4 linked regions of the Homo sapiens genome follow. The protein of the gene in region 4 purifies or fractionates together with the protein of the main gene of each other region. This does not show direct contact. Each region holds a gene or a part of one and is shown on either strand. Other genes may lie near its edges.

Region 1 (3,500 bases), on a different chromosome or scaffold from region 4:
AATATGGCCCCTCAGCTGGCTGATTTTTCTTTTTTTCTTTACTGTTTGCCTTTAGAAAAAGATACAATATCTAAATTTCAGAATTTGATTTAGCAAAAAATAATTTAAAACTGTAACAAAAATGACTTTTTTGTTAACTACATTATGAAATTTCGTAAGTAAACAGTTTCTGTAGACGAAGATATCAAGAACTTAACTCATTTGGTTTTGAAAGCAGCTTAATATCATGGATCACTTATAAACAGATTTTGGGTAGAACTGATCGTCTGGGAGAAATAATTATGGGAAATTTGGGGCTGTATATGAGTGTTAATCAAATGGAATACATTGCTTTCTCCTAGGAACATCGAAATCGTGTATTTCATGATTTCCGAAATGGCTTATGCCGCAATCTTGTTTGCACTGGTAAGTATTTTTGTATTTCCTTTACCCAGTGTTTTTCTCCCAAGTTGTTTTTTGCTTTCTCTGTTCATATTACATAGTGCAACCTGTGACATAGTCCGACACACCCTACCACTACTTCTAGGATTTCTGAAGTTGAAAATGAACTCTTGTCAGCTCCTGATACTGGGTTCCATATCTGAAACTTTAGAAGACTTACTCTGGCACTCATACCTCATCTCTGTCTTTTTTTTGGGGGGGGGGGGGAGGGGGATGGAATCTTTGTCACCCAGGCTGGAGTGCAGTGGTGCGATCTTGGCTCTCTGAAACCTCCACCTCCTGGGTTCAAGTGATTCTCCTGCCTCAGCCTCCCAAGTAGCTGGGATTGTGGGCGCCTGCTACCGCTTAGCCCGGCTAATTTTTGTATTTTTGGTAGAGACAGGGATTTCACCATGTTGGCCAGGCTGGTCTCGAACTCCTGACCTCAGGTGATCTTCCTGCTTTGGTCTCCCAAAGTGCTGGGATTACAGGCTTGAGTGCACCCAGCCTCTTTTAGACACATTTTTTAAAACTTGCTTACAATTACTGGAAAAAAGTAACTTGGGAGCAGAAAGTTATTTATGATAATGTGATTATGAAAGGTAATGCCAGTAATGTGCAAATGCATTTGAATAACTGAATTAAATTAATAAACTTAGGTTATGCTAGAAATATGTGTTAGTATTGTACTGAGAGACATTTCTAAATTGAAAAAATGAAAATTATCTTTTTTTTTTTAAGATCTGTTTACCCGAGGTATTGATATACAAGCTGTGAATGTGGTAATAAACTTTGATTTCCCAAAGCTGGCAGAGACCTATCTCCATCGTATTGGAAGATCAGGTGAGGAAAAAAGAGGTGATATTCTTGGTAGAAGTTCTTTTTTGAGGCGTGTAATGACTAAATTTTGTTCTTTTGTGAAATAGAGTACAGTAGCTATGAGAACAGTGAATTAACAGTAATTCAGTTGTTTGGTATTTAAGACTAATTTCTAATTCTTCTGTAGCATTTATTAAGAAAAGTTAAAATAACTGCTTAATTTGAGATGAAATTAACACATGAGAACTTCACTCATTAGGTGGTATGTTCTGTGACTGTTGTTTAATGTGTATTTTATGGCAGTTTTGACTGCCATTTTGTCATTTGAGAAAGGTGAAATGAAGTACTATTTTGGGCTGCGAAACCTGAAGTTGTAGGGAAACCTGTGTTTGAAGACCATTAAGAAGTTGTTTTGCATACTAAGAATGGCACTGAACATCATTATCAATCCTGTGTGGTTTTGCCACTGCTTGACTTGCACAATTCACATTGATTTTCATATTTTATTCATTAAAATTTTTAAACGCATGTTTTTTAGGTCGCTTTGGTCATCTTGGCTTAGCCATCAACTTGATCACATATGATGATCGCTTCAACCTGAAAAGTATTGAGGAGCAGCTGGGAACAGAAATTAAACCTATTCCGAGCAACATTGATAAGAGCCTGTATGTGGCAGAATACCACAGCGAGCCTGTAGAAGATGAGAAACCTTAACAAGCATGTACGTCCCTGACAGAACAGCTAAGAGGAACCTTTAAATGAGGGAAATCAAAATCTTCTTTCCTGGGGGAAATTTGATGTCACACCATATATAATAGCAATAAAGGGTAAAATACCCACTAGCATAAATGACAGTAAATAATATCTCTTGTGGGAGGTTGTAGTCTCATTCGAGAATCTGTAAATGTTGTTCTTGAATGCAGCTTCCCGGGTAATGTGGTAGATTAGCAGTACTTAAATTCAGAGTCCTAAAATAATGAAAGCAAAAAAGAATGTTTTTCAGCAATTTGTTTTTCTTTTTGAGACAAGGTCTCACTGTCATCCAGGCTGGAGTGCAGTGGTGCAATCATAGCTCACTGCAGCCTGGTTCTCCTGGGCTCCTGAGTAGCTGGAACTGTAGGCACATGCCACCACGCCTGCCTAATGTTTTAAATTTTTGGTAGAAACAAGGTCTTGCTTTGTTGCCTAGGCTGGTCCAGAACTCCTGAACTCCAGCAGTCCTCCTGCCTTGGCTTCCCAAAGTGTTAGGATTATAGGCGCAAGCCACTGTGCCACTGTGCCTGGCCTTTTTTGACAGTTTTGTAGGGGGGATTTTTGTTGTTTTTGTTTTTTGAGAGTCTTGCTCTGTTGCCCAGGCTGGAGTACAGTGGCACAATCACGGCCCACTGCAACCTCTGCCTCCCAGGTTCAAGCGATTCTGGTGCACCTCAGCCTCCCAAGTAGCTGGAATTACAGGCATGCTCCACCATGCCCAGCTAATTTTTGTATTTTTTAGTAGAGTTGGAGTTTCACCATGTTGGCCAGGTTGGTCTTGAACTCCTGACCTCAAGTGATCTACCCGCCTCAGCCTCCTAAAGGGAGGCTGGGATTACAGGTGTGAGCCACCACACTGCCAGCAGTTTTGAATATGAAAGTATTTACATTTCTGAAAATGTAAAATGTTTTTAGCATTTACTCTTAATTTCTAGTAAGTACATTAATCACTCTGATAAAACTATCCATAATACCTTATTAGCAAATGTTTAATCAGATTATGAGGATGGCCATCTTTTTAAAATACCCACTCTGGGCCGGGTGCGGTGGCTCACACCTGTAATCCCAGTACTTTGGGAGGCCGAGGTGGGCGGATCACGAGGTCAAGAGATCGAGACCATCCTGGCCAACATGGTGAAACCCTGTCTCTACTAAAAATACAAAAATTAGCCGGGCATGGTGACACGCACCTGTAGTCCCAGCTACTCGGGAGGCTGAGGCAGGCGAATCACTTGAACCTGGGAGGTGGAGGTTACAGTGAGCTGAGACCGCACCACTGCACTCCAGCCTGGGTGACAAAGCTAGACTCCATCTCAAAAAAAAAAAAAAAAAAAAAGCCACTTGGGCTGGCTCAGTGGCTCACACCTGTAATCCCAGCACTTTGGGAGGCCGAGGTGGGTGGATTACCTGAGGTCAGGACTTCAAGACCAGCCTGGCCAACCTGGTGAGACCCCGTGTCCACTAAAGATACAGAAAATTAGCCAGGCATGGTGGCGGGCGCCTGTAAT
Region 2 (3,500 bases), on a different chromosome or scaffold from region 4:
GAGTAGAGCCTTTAGTTAGATTTTACTTTATTTTTGCGTATAAACATAGGCACCTATAACACAGATGACCCAAAGTTAGTAATGTTTCATTATAAGAACCACTTGATAACAAACTATAAATTATGTAGCACAGTTAAATTTACTATATGCATAATTAATACATAGCATCTGAATAAAACTCGGTGTGCCGAGCACGGTGGCTCATGCCTATCACTTTGGGAGGCTAAGGCAGGAGGCTTGCTTGAGCCCAGGAGTTGGAGACCAGCCTGGACAACATAGGGAAACCTTGTCTCTACAAAAAATAAAAAAAGTTAGACCAGCATTGTGGCACACACCTGTCGTCCCAGCTACTCAGGAGGCTAAGGCAGACGGATTGCTTGAGCCCAGGAGGTCGAGGCTGCAGTGAGCTAAGGTCACGCTACTGCACTCCAGCCTAGGAGATAGAGTGAGTCTCTGAAAATCAGTCAATTTCTTAGTGTAAAATGCTAAAAGAATTGTGATAATTGTCTTTTCTTTTCTTTCGAGATGGAGTTTTGCTCTTGTTGCCCAGGCTGGAGTGCAATGGCACCATCTAGGCTCACTGCAACCTCCGCCTCCCAGGTTCAAGTGATTCTCCTGCCTCTGCCTCCCAAGTAGCTGGGATTACAAGCATGCGCCACCATGCCTGGCTAATTTTGTATTTTTAGTAGAGACGGGGTTTCTCCATGGTGGTCAGGCTGGTCTCGAACTCCCAACCTCAGGTGATCCACCCGCCTCACCCTCCCAAAGTGCTGGGATTACAGGCCTGAGCCACCACGTCCAGCAGGAACTGTGAGAATTTTCTCAGGCAGAAAGATGCTTGCTATGCTTTGCTTTTTTTTTATTATTTTTTGAAACAGAGTCTCACTCTGTTGCCCAGGCTGGAATGCAGTGGCCTGATCTTGGCTCACTGCACCCTCCACCTCCCATGTTTAAACAACTGTTATGCCTCAGCCTCTCCTGAGTAGCTGGTATTACAGGTGTGCGCCACCATGCCCGGATAATTTTTTATTTTTAGTAGAGACCAGGTTTCGCCAGGCTGGTCTTACACTCCTGGCCTTAAGTGATCTGGCCTCCTTGGACTTCCAAAGTGTTGGGATGACAGGTGTGAGCCACCGCACCAGGCCAGAAAGAAGGTTCTTGAAGGAAATAGATGTATTTTCCCCACGTATTTGGAGATGGTGGTGGTTTAATGTTTACAGATGAAAAGGAGAGAATGCATAGGGGCAAAATTTGGAAGGGGAAATGGTGAATGGATGGATTTTCTTAGAAAAAGAATGTACATATTGTGTATTGTATAAATATTGTCTCTACCTTTTAATAGTGACAGCATTTTATTTGATGTGTTGGTAAAATGTTCCACATGTCTGCTTATTGACCTTGTGTCAGCCTTGCTTTGAAATCAGTCAGTTTTGCCTGCAGGGTTTCTGGCAGAGTTACCATGGGAACTATAGACTGTCAACTATCTGAAACTCCTAATTAGAGTGGAATTTGAAGTAATAAGTGGTATATAGCCAGGGGTATGGGCCTACAGGCCAAATCTGGCCAAAGGCCGTTTTCATAAATCAAGTTTGATCGGAACAGTTACACATTCCTTTAAATAGTGCCTACACCTGCTTTTGCACTGCAGTTTCAGAGTTGAATACTTGTAGTTGTGATGTTGATTGTATGACCTACAAAGCCTAAAATATTTGTGTATTTGATGCTTTAAACTTTGGTGACCCCCAGTCTATTGCCTTCCTACTCAAAAGTATGGTCTCTGGACCAGCAGTCTTGGCATCACACATGGTATAACTAAATATGCAGAATCATAGGCTTCTCTCTGCACTCACAAATACAGGCACATTGATGCTCAAAGAGAATCCAAGGAATGTATTAGGAATATATGGCCGTACGTGGTGGCTCACACCTGTAACCCCAGCACTTTGGGAGGCTGAGGTGGGTGGATCATCTGAGGTCAGGAGTTCGAGATCAGCCTGGCCAAACGGCATCTCCACTAAAGATACAAAACTTAGCCAGCCTTGGTGGCTGGCGCCTGTAATCCCAGCTACTTGGGAGGCTGAGGCAGGAGAATCCCATGAACCCAGGAGGCAGAGTTTGCAGTGAGCTGAGATCACGCCACTGCACTCCAGCCTGGATGACAGAGCAAGACTCCATCTCAAAAAAAAAAAAAAAAAGAAAAGAAAAAGGTATATATGAAGTTAGGCAGTGAGTGCTTACTTTTTTTTTTTTTTTTTTTTTGAGACGGAGTCTCACTCTGTCGCCCAGGCTGGAGTACAGTGGCATGATCTCGGCTCACCACAACCTCTGTCTCCTGGGTTCAAGTGATTCTCCTACCTCAGCCTCCCGAGTAGTTGGGATTACAGGTGCGCCACCATGCCCAGCTAATTTTTGCGTTTTTGGTAGTGACGGGTTTTCACCACATTGGCCAGGCTGGTCTCGAACTCCCAACCTCTCTGGTGATCCACCCACCTCAGCTTCCCAAACTGTTGGGATTACAGGCTTGAGCCACCACGACTGGCCGACTGCTTACTTTTGAATTTTTTCTTAGATATGAACATAGCAAACCATTGAAACAGGAAGAAGCAACTGCTACAGAGCTAACTACAAAGTCATCCCTTGCTGCTTCCTCAAGTCTCTCATCGATAGTTGGACCACTTGTTGAAATGAATACAGGCGAAGCTGAGTCAAGAAATTCAAACTTTGCAACTGTAGGAGCAGGTTCAGAGGACTGGGTGAATGCTATTGAGTTTGTTCCTGGGCAACCCTACTGTGGCCGTAGTAAGTATTCTGAAGAAGAAAATAAGAGTTAGAGGGCTGGATAGCAGTTCATCCATTTGCTTAGTTTTGACAACTTTCCCCTTTCTGCTTCTATTCCTTTTTTAGTTTAATCTTAGTACAGTACTTTAATTTGGATTACCTAAGATTTACAGATAGAGTGAAGGAAATTTTTAATCCCAGTGAAATGAATTCAGAATGTTTTGAAAAACTGAATCCTTTCGAGTACTTTTTGAAATTAAATTTCAGTTACCCAAGACATAGATAAAGAAGCAATTTTTTTTTTTTACAAGTCTAATCTTGGAAATAACAGCGGTAGAAAAAATTCCTTTCTTTCAAGTGAAGAAGTTAGTTCAGTAGACTGTTTTGGTATTTCATTGCAGTTTTATTTTCATTTTTTGCGGTTAGATTCTCAGTTCTCTTATAGTTCATGCCTTATCTATTTGGACCTTTACCACCCTCTTACACATTTTCAGCTGCGCCTTCCTGCACTGAAGCACCCCTGCAGGGCTCAGTGACCAAGGAAGAATCAGAGAAAGAGCAAACCGCCGTGGAGACAAAGAAGCAGCTGTGCCCCTATGCTGCAGTGGGAGAGTGCCGATACGGGGAGAACTGTGTGTATCTCCACGGAGATTCTTGTGACATGTGTGGGCTGCAGGTCCTGCATCCAATGGATGCTGCCCAGAGATCGCAGCATATCAAAG
Region 3 (3,500 bases), on a different chromosome or scaffold from region 4:
CCATCCTGATGCTGCTGCTTTTTAAAGATATGAGTAAAATGCTTGAGTTCTGTTGCTAGGTCTATCTGCAAAGACTCCCAAGTAGGAACCACTGGAGTTTTAACTTGGAGCCTAGTAACTATTTGCTATAGTGACTCTTTTCGAAATTTTTAAAAAATTACTTGAGATCACCCTAGCTACTCAGAATACTGAAAAGAGCCCACTGTTACCTGAGAATATGGAGATGTCCCTAGGCATTTTCTGATTCTATATTATTTTAAATGCTATGGACCTTGAGTTAATTCCAGTTGACAATAACAGTTACAAAGAAAATGACTATCCCATGTTTCCTATCTGTCAGCCAGACCTCAATTCATGAAAAAACACTACAGTGCCACAATTCTTAAAAAGCTATCAGCATATTAAAAGGTAAATAGATTATATCCACCAACACTCATCTTTACCACTTCAGAAATATCACCATGCTTTTTTGTGTTTATCCCCTCTAAACAACAAGAGTAAAAACTGTGTTGTCTTCCCCACAAAAGCCTATATTATTTAAGTAATAGTGATTGTCCTTTTAAAAAAATATAAATTTTTTCATAAGTCCTTTCTGAAGTGGAAGCAGGAGCATAAAATAAAACTAGAGATTCTGCAAGCTTGCTATTTAATAAAGAATTGCAAAATATTTCAAATTAATATTGGGTTCATTTTCTCAAACTTCTTATAAATATTATATTATTACATTCTTATTGACCTTATTGAAAAGAACAATAACAATGAAGTTTTATGGGACTCTTTTAGTAACTAGTTTGAAAGATCCCTAACTCGGTGTCATATCTAATATAAAATGGTAACTCCCAAAATAACAGGATAATATTAAGTCTGTTTCTCAGGCAGCATCCATTAAACCAACTTGAATTTCCATCTATAATCCTACACTGTTTAGTATTAATCATTAGATACTATATTACTGAATCATAGTCAAGAATATTGTACAAAAAGGCAACTGATACAGATCAAAAGAACAAGAGGATAAAGTGAGGAATATTTTACCAATGTACCTTTAATTCTTCAAGCTTCTCTCTTATTTCAATAAATCCCAGGTGCAGTTTACCCCCAAAATGATCAGCCAGTCGTCTGTCATTATCATGAAGTCCTAAATAGGCAGAGCAGACTTCACAGACTCGAAGTTTCTGCTGCTGAAAACTGGAAGCTGGCATAGAATTCCGATAAACTTCCTAAACAAAAGTGAGAAAAACAATGACCATATAAATCTCACTAAAAGTCATACAATTAAATAAAATATACTATGCTTATACCAAAAGTGTTTTCTAAAAAATACACAAAAGTGGCTGGGCACGGTGGCTCACTGGGGCGAGACTCCAGCTCAAAAAAAAAAAAAAAAAAAAACCACAAAAGCATGGCTATTTTGTTATGAAAATTATAGGTTCCCTTTATCCCCATCCTCTATCCTTAGCGCCTCTCTCCACTGGAGTATAAGGAAATAATAAACATGAACAGAAATCAATGAAATAGAAAACAAGAAAAAAACAATAAAATCAGAAGACTGGTTCTTTGAAAAACAAAATAAAACTGACCAGCTAGATTAATTAAGAAAAGACACGAATTGCAAACATTCTACAGATATTAAAAGAGAACACTATGAACAACTTTATATCAATAAATACAACTTAGAGAGATTTTCTGAAAGACAAATTTACCAAAAGTATTTTAAAAAACAACAACAACAAAAAAACAGGCCAGGCCGGGTGGCTCACGCCTGTAATCCCAGCACTTTGGGAGGCTGAGGTGGACAGATCACCCCAGGTCAGGAGTTCAAGACCAGCCTGGCCAACATGGTGAAAGCCTATCTCTACTAAAAATACAAAAAATTAGCCGGGCATGGTGGTGCACACCTGTAGTCCCAGCTACTCAGCAGGCTGAGGCAAGAGAATCGCCTGAACCCAGGAAGCAGAGGTTTCAGTGAGCTGAGATCGCACCACTACACTCCAGCCTTGGAGAGAGAGTAAGACTCTGTCTTAAAAAAAAAAAAAAAAAAGGCCCTGGTGCAGTGGTTCATGCCTGTAATCCTAGCACTTTGGGAGGCCGAGGCAGGTGGATCACCTGAGGTTGGGTGTTCAAGACCAGCCTGACCAACATGGAGAAACCCTGTCTCTACTAAAAATATAAATATTAGCCAGGTGTGGTGGCATGGGCCTGTAATCCCAGCTACTTGGGAGGCTGAGGCAGGAGAATCGCTTGAACCCGGGAGGCAGAGGTTGCGGTGAGCTGAGATCATGCCATTGCACTCCTGCCTGAGCAAGAAGAGCAAAACTCCATCTCAAAAAAACAAAAAGAAGAAGGCTGGACTTGAACTGGACTCAAGCGATCCACCTTAGCCTGCAAAATAGCTGGGACCAAAGGCACGCACCACCACAACCAGCTTTTTCCGAGTTTTGTTTTGTTTTTGTCTTTTAGTTCAACTTCTCTTTAACAACTGTTCAATAATTTCCATTCAAATACATGTTCTTAGAGAAGTATAGATACTGAAGTTTCATCTACTACTTTTTATTTGTAGTCTTACCAAATTAAGCAGAATTCGTCTACTACTATTAAGAATTTACCTCTGCTTCTCTTTTCTTTGCCCGTGCTTTCTCTACTTCATCCATTACTTTCTGGGATTCCTCCACATTCCCTTCAGCTCCTAGTTGTTCCACCTTGGCTAACAATTTACCAATTTCTTCATTTAACTCATGAACACGTTCTGCCTAAAAAGAAATAAAAAAGAAGATCATGAATAAACAAGAGAATGAATTTTAAATTTCAAAGTATTTCAGAACTGCTGAGAAAAAACTTGTTATCTAAGGCAGTATGTGGTTAAAGAATGCTTTCTGAGCGTATCCCAAATGAACTACTGAGACATCAGGATGTTCTGAGCCTGCCTGCCTTACCTCAATGAAGTCAGGGCTACTACTGGGCCCAATATAACTTTCTATCCTCTGGCGAGGTGGTGTATTCCTAGTGTAAAATACGATTTCTTCCATGATCTGGCCCTTTGTACTTTTCTAAACCATCTCTTGCTACTCCCCCACCTCACAACATAATTTATAGTTTCCCCAAACTTACCCTGTTGTTTTCTACCTCTGTTACTTTGCATATACTCTTCTTTCTGGGATGGGATCCCTTACCTCTCGCCTGCCTACTGAATATTCACTCGTTCCAACAAGATACAACTCAAGGGCCATTTCTGTAAAACATTCCTGAACAGTCACCACATCCCAGCCCCACTTAAACACATCAGCAAAGATGGCCATACTCTCTCCTTTGTGTCACCTTTGTATCTTTTTTGACAGTTCCTTTCATAAATATCATACTACTTTAAGGACAGCTATCTGTATTTCCCATCTTTGTATCTCTAGTGCTCAGCAAATAGCCTAGGCTCAAATATGAGTTAAAGAAATGAATTGGTGGATCAAGTTCAGGAATCCATCAGATCTGACTTATTGCTAAACCAATTA
Region 4 (3,500 bases):
AAATGAACATTTTAAAAACATGGCCATCAGGTTTCTTCATGAAGGCAGTGTGATGTGGTAGGAATAGCCCTGGTCTAAGCCAGGAGCCCTGGGGCTGGTCCTCACAGGATAGTCCTGCCTTTTTCTCTTTCTGCTGGGGACTTGGGGTATCTCTGAGCCTCCTTGGTGGTGGATGGGGATCTCGTGTTTTAACCTCTCCTGTCAGTCTTTAACCTGTATTCCTTTGGGTCCCTGGACATCATGTTTTATTCCTCTGGGTAATTACTGTTCTTCATGGTTTCATTTTAGATTTGTGGGCAGATTCAAGTCTCGCAAAGAGCGGGAAGCTGAGCTTGGAGCCAAAGCCAAGGAATTCACCAATGTTTATATCAAAAACTTTGGGGAAGAGGTGGATGATGAGAGTCTGAAAGAGCTATTCAGTCAGTTTGGTAAGTTGGGGTTCCTTGTCTCCTTTCACAGTCTACCAGACCCATCTGTTTTTTCTTAAGAGATGAGGGCACTGCTCCAGAGATTTGCTTCAAGTGAGTTTCCAGAGGGAAGCCTTCTGTTCCTGAGCTGTGCTCAAGATGGTGTTACTAATAGTTCTGTCCTTTGGTAATAGGTAAGACCCTAAGTGTCAAGGTGATGAGAGATCCCAATGGGAAATCCAAAGGCTTTGGCTTTGTGAGTTACGAAAAACACGAGGATGCCAATAAGGTGAGTATACCACAAAGATTGGGAAAAGCTTTTAAGAGGTTGCCCCAGAGTATGGGTAGGGTCTTGCTAGCACCTACCTAGAGCTGGGACGGTCTGAGTATCTGGTAGTAGATGTACCATTACTATACTCTGGGATCATCTTCCTGGGTTCCGCATGTTAACTTCATGTAGGTGTTTACAAAGCACTTGGCACATACCTGTCACCTCAGCTATCAGTTGTTGAAAGAATAGGACAGACGTTTGTTATGCTGCAAAGGTGAGAGAACTAAAGCCCAGTGAGTGCTGATTTGATAACAGCACGGCAGCTACTTGTGGGCAAAGCATTGTGCCAGACCCTCAATATTTATCACTTAAATACCCACAAAAGCACCTGCAGAATTTACTGGCAGCCGGAATATTATATCGCCCTAGGCTCATGTCAGCACACTTGTGTTTATACACCTGTACTATTTCTATATTATCTGGATCAATAACCCATTTAAATATTAACCTCACTTTACAGATGAGGAAGTTTGGATTTGTGTGACAGACTTCAGAGGTGGAGTGAATTTAGTTTTTAGTCCTATAGTAGAAAGAATATTTTTTGGGACTTAGACCTCCAGAATAAGACCCCATCGCTGCAACTTTATTTTAAAGACATATTTTTCCTCTCTAGGCTGTGGAAGAGATGAATGGAAAAGAAATAAGTGGTAAAATCATATTTGTAGGCCGTGCACAAAAGAAAGTAGAACGGCAGGCAGAGTTAAAACGGAAATTTGAACAGTTGAAACAGGAGAGAATTAGTCGATATCAGGTAAGGTGGTCTTGGCCCAGCCTAGCAATGGGATTTGCTGTGAAATATTTGCAGAACACCCCTATGTTTAGCGGGCTTTCTTTTTGAGGACTTGGAGTGTGTTCTTCTTCCCATTTTACCTAAAAAGATGAGGTTTAAAAGGATATATACCTACTACATATGACTGATTATTATAGAACCAGAAACAAGAGATGGGTTTATTCATCAAGAAGCTCTCTATTTTGGAAGCCTCAGCCTGTTGCTTTTAGCCATGTAGGTTCCTTTTACTTAAATGAGACTCCTTTGTTTGGCATGGCTTCAAGAAGACCCCTGCTGGGGTGGGTGAGTGGTCACCAGAACAGCTGTGGGGAGAGGTGACAAAAGGTGAGTGCACTGATGATCCTGTCAGTTTCAGGGCAGTAGTTTCACAACTTTGGACTTGCATCAGATTCATCAGCAGAGCTTGTTAAAACAGATAGCTGGGCTCCAGCCCCAGAGTTTTTCTTATTCATTGGGTTTGGGGTCTGGCCTAAGAATTTCATTTCTTTCTTTTTTTTTTTTTTTTCTTGAGACAGTCTCGCTCTGTCGCCCAGGTTGGAGTGCAGTGGCACAATCTCGGCTCACTGCAAACTCCGCCTCCCGGGTTCGCACCATTCTCCTGCCTTAGCCTCCTGAGTAGCTGGGACTACAGGCACCCGCCACCATGCCTGGCTAATTTTTTGTATTTTTAGTAGAGACGGGGTTTCACTGTGTTAGCCAGGATGGTCTCGATCTCCTGACCTTGTGATTCGCCCGCCTCGGCCTCCCAAAGTGCTGGGATTACAGGCGTGAGCCACCGCGTCCGGCCGAGAATTTCATTTCTAACAAGTTCCCAAAGATGCTGGTGCTCCTGGTCTGGGGCCACCCTTGGGGAACCACTTTCTTAGGGAATATTTGTGATATAGAAGTGTAGTTAACAGTGATCTTTTTCCTTCAGGGGGTGAATCTCTACATTAAGAACTTGGATGACACTATTGATGATGAGAAATTAAGGAAAGAATTTTCTCCTTTTGGATCAATTACCAGTGCTAAGGTATTATACTGCGATCTGGGGATTGAAAGCAGTGGTATTCCATTATAGGCTTATTGGCATTTGTCCCATTGAAGGAATAGCATTTAAATTATGTTCATTTCTGAAAGTAGCTACTACGTTTTTCTAGCAAAATTTCTGGATGCATTCTGGAGAATGACATTTCATTAGGTTAACATTACACTGTTTCCCAAGCACTGGAGTCTGGAGAGGAATTTGACCCAGCCCCTCCTTGCCAACTCAGAGCACCTGAATCTTTCCCATTCCTTGCTGCCTCGTGCCGGTGTGGGGACAGATGGTGCTACAGAATGAGCAGAGGAAATCCAGACAGGTTGTTTTCCATTTGTCTTGGGGCCTGTCTCTACAGCTCTGCCACATTTTCTCCTTGAGAATGAAGGTATTTTGAAGATTTTGGAGGTGGGCTTGGGAACTTCTACCCTGGTCTTAAAAAGAGAGGAAAGGGGAGTGGAAGGTTTTTCTATGTTTCGTAGTGTGCATCATTTGCTTGATTTTCTTTGATAATCATATCAACTAAGTTAGCAGGGTAAGTAGGAACCTCATTTTAAAGATAAGGAATTTTAGTCCTTGAACAAGAGAATGCTGACTACATGGGGATGGTGTACTGCTTGTCCTTGGCACTTTGGGAGCAGGATGGAAACTGGTGCCATCTGAACATTTTGAGTTATGGCCGGATGCAGACGCCGGTCTTGCTAAACAGGTGTACCAGATGCCACAAAATCCTTTAGTTGATGAGAAGGGAAGCCACGTGGGCTGGTAAGGGCTTAGTGGCCCTGCCCTGGCTCTTAGTGGACTTTGCTCCCAACCTGGGAATGTGGAAAGCAATGTTATCAGTTGTAGTAGGGAGTTGGCCAGAGGCCAACTGTGGGTTTGCCCAGTTCTTACCCTTTCGTTTTTGCTATGACCCCCCCCTTGACTGGCCCTCATCAGTGTAAGGAGTGATCT

Evidence for each region. The genes of interacting proteins can lie anywhere in the genome.
Region 1: the proteins of PABPC4 (region 4) and DDX6 purify together in Homo sapiens (affinity purification with mass spectrometry; 3 studies listed by BioGRID and IntAct, with this or other methods). This does not show direct contact.
Region 2: the proteins of PABPC4 (region 4) and MKRN1 purify together in Homo sapiens (affinity purification with mass spectrometry; 3 studies listed by BioGRID and IntAct, with this or other methods). This does not show direct contact.
Region 3: the proteins of PABPC4 (region 4) and LUC7L2 purify together in Homo sapiens (affinity purification with mass spectrometry; 2 studies listed by BioGRID, with this or other methods). This does not show direct contact.

The regions. Positions count from the first base shown.
Region 1 is NC_000011.10:118,753,165-118,756,664, reverse strand, and holds part of DDX6 (probable ATP-dependent RNA helicase DDX6), read left to right. Parts: intron 1-341; coding exon 342-405; intron 406-1,161; coding exon 1,162-1,263; intron 1,264-1,777; coding exon 1,778-1,953; 3' UTR 1,954-1,960; intron 1,961-3,500.
Region 2 is NC_000007.14:140,459,006-140,462,505, reverse strand, and holds part of MKRN1 (E3 ubiquitin-protein ligase makorin-1), read left to right. Parts: intron 1-2,569; coding exon 2,570-2,799; intron 2,800-3,272; coding exon 3,273-3,499; intron 3,500-3,500. UniProt on the Homo sapiens protein: E3 ubiquitin ligase catalyzing the covalent attachment of ubiquitin moieties onto substrate proteins. These substrates include FILIP1, p53/TP53, CDKN1A and TERT.
Region 3 is NC_000007.14:139,404,894-139,408,393, reverse strand, and holds part of LUC7L2 (putative RNA-binding protein Luc7-like 2), read right to left. Parts: intron 2,751-3,500; coding exon 2,607-2,750; intron 1,221-2,606; coding exon 1,044-1,220; intron 1-1,043. Other genes in the region: FMC1-LUC7L2 readthrough protein, read right to left, coding at 1,044-1,220, 2,607-2,750. UniProt on the Homo sapiens protein: May bind to RNA via its Arg/Ser-rich domain.
Region 4 is NC_000001.11:39,566,791-39,570,290, reverse strand, and holds part of PABPC4 (polyadenylate-binding protein 4), read left to right. Parts: intron 1-288; coding exon 289-428; intron 429-601; coding exon 602-696; intron 697-1,351; coding exon 1,352-1,489; intron 1,490-2,444; coding exon 2,445-2,540; intron 2,541-2,780; exon of another isoform or gene 2,781-2,917; intron 2,918-3,500.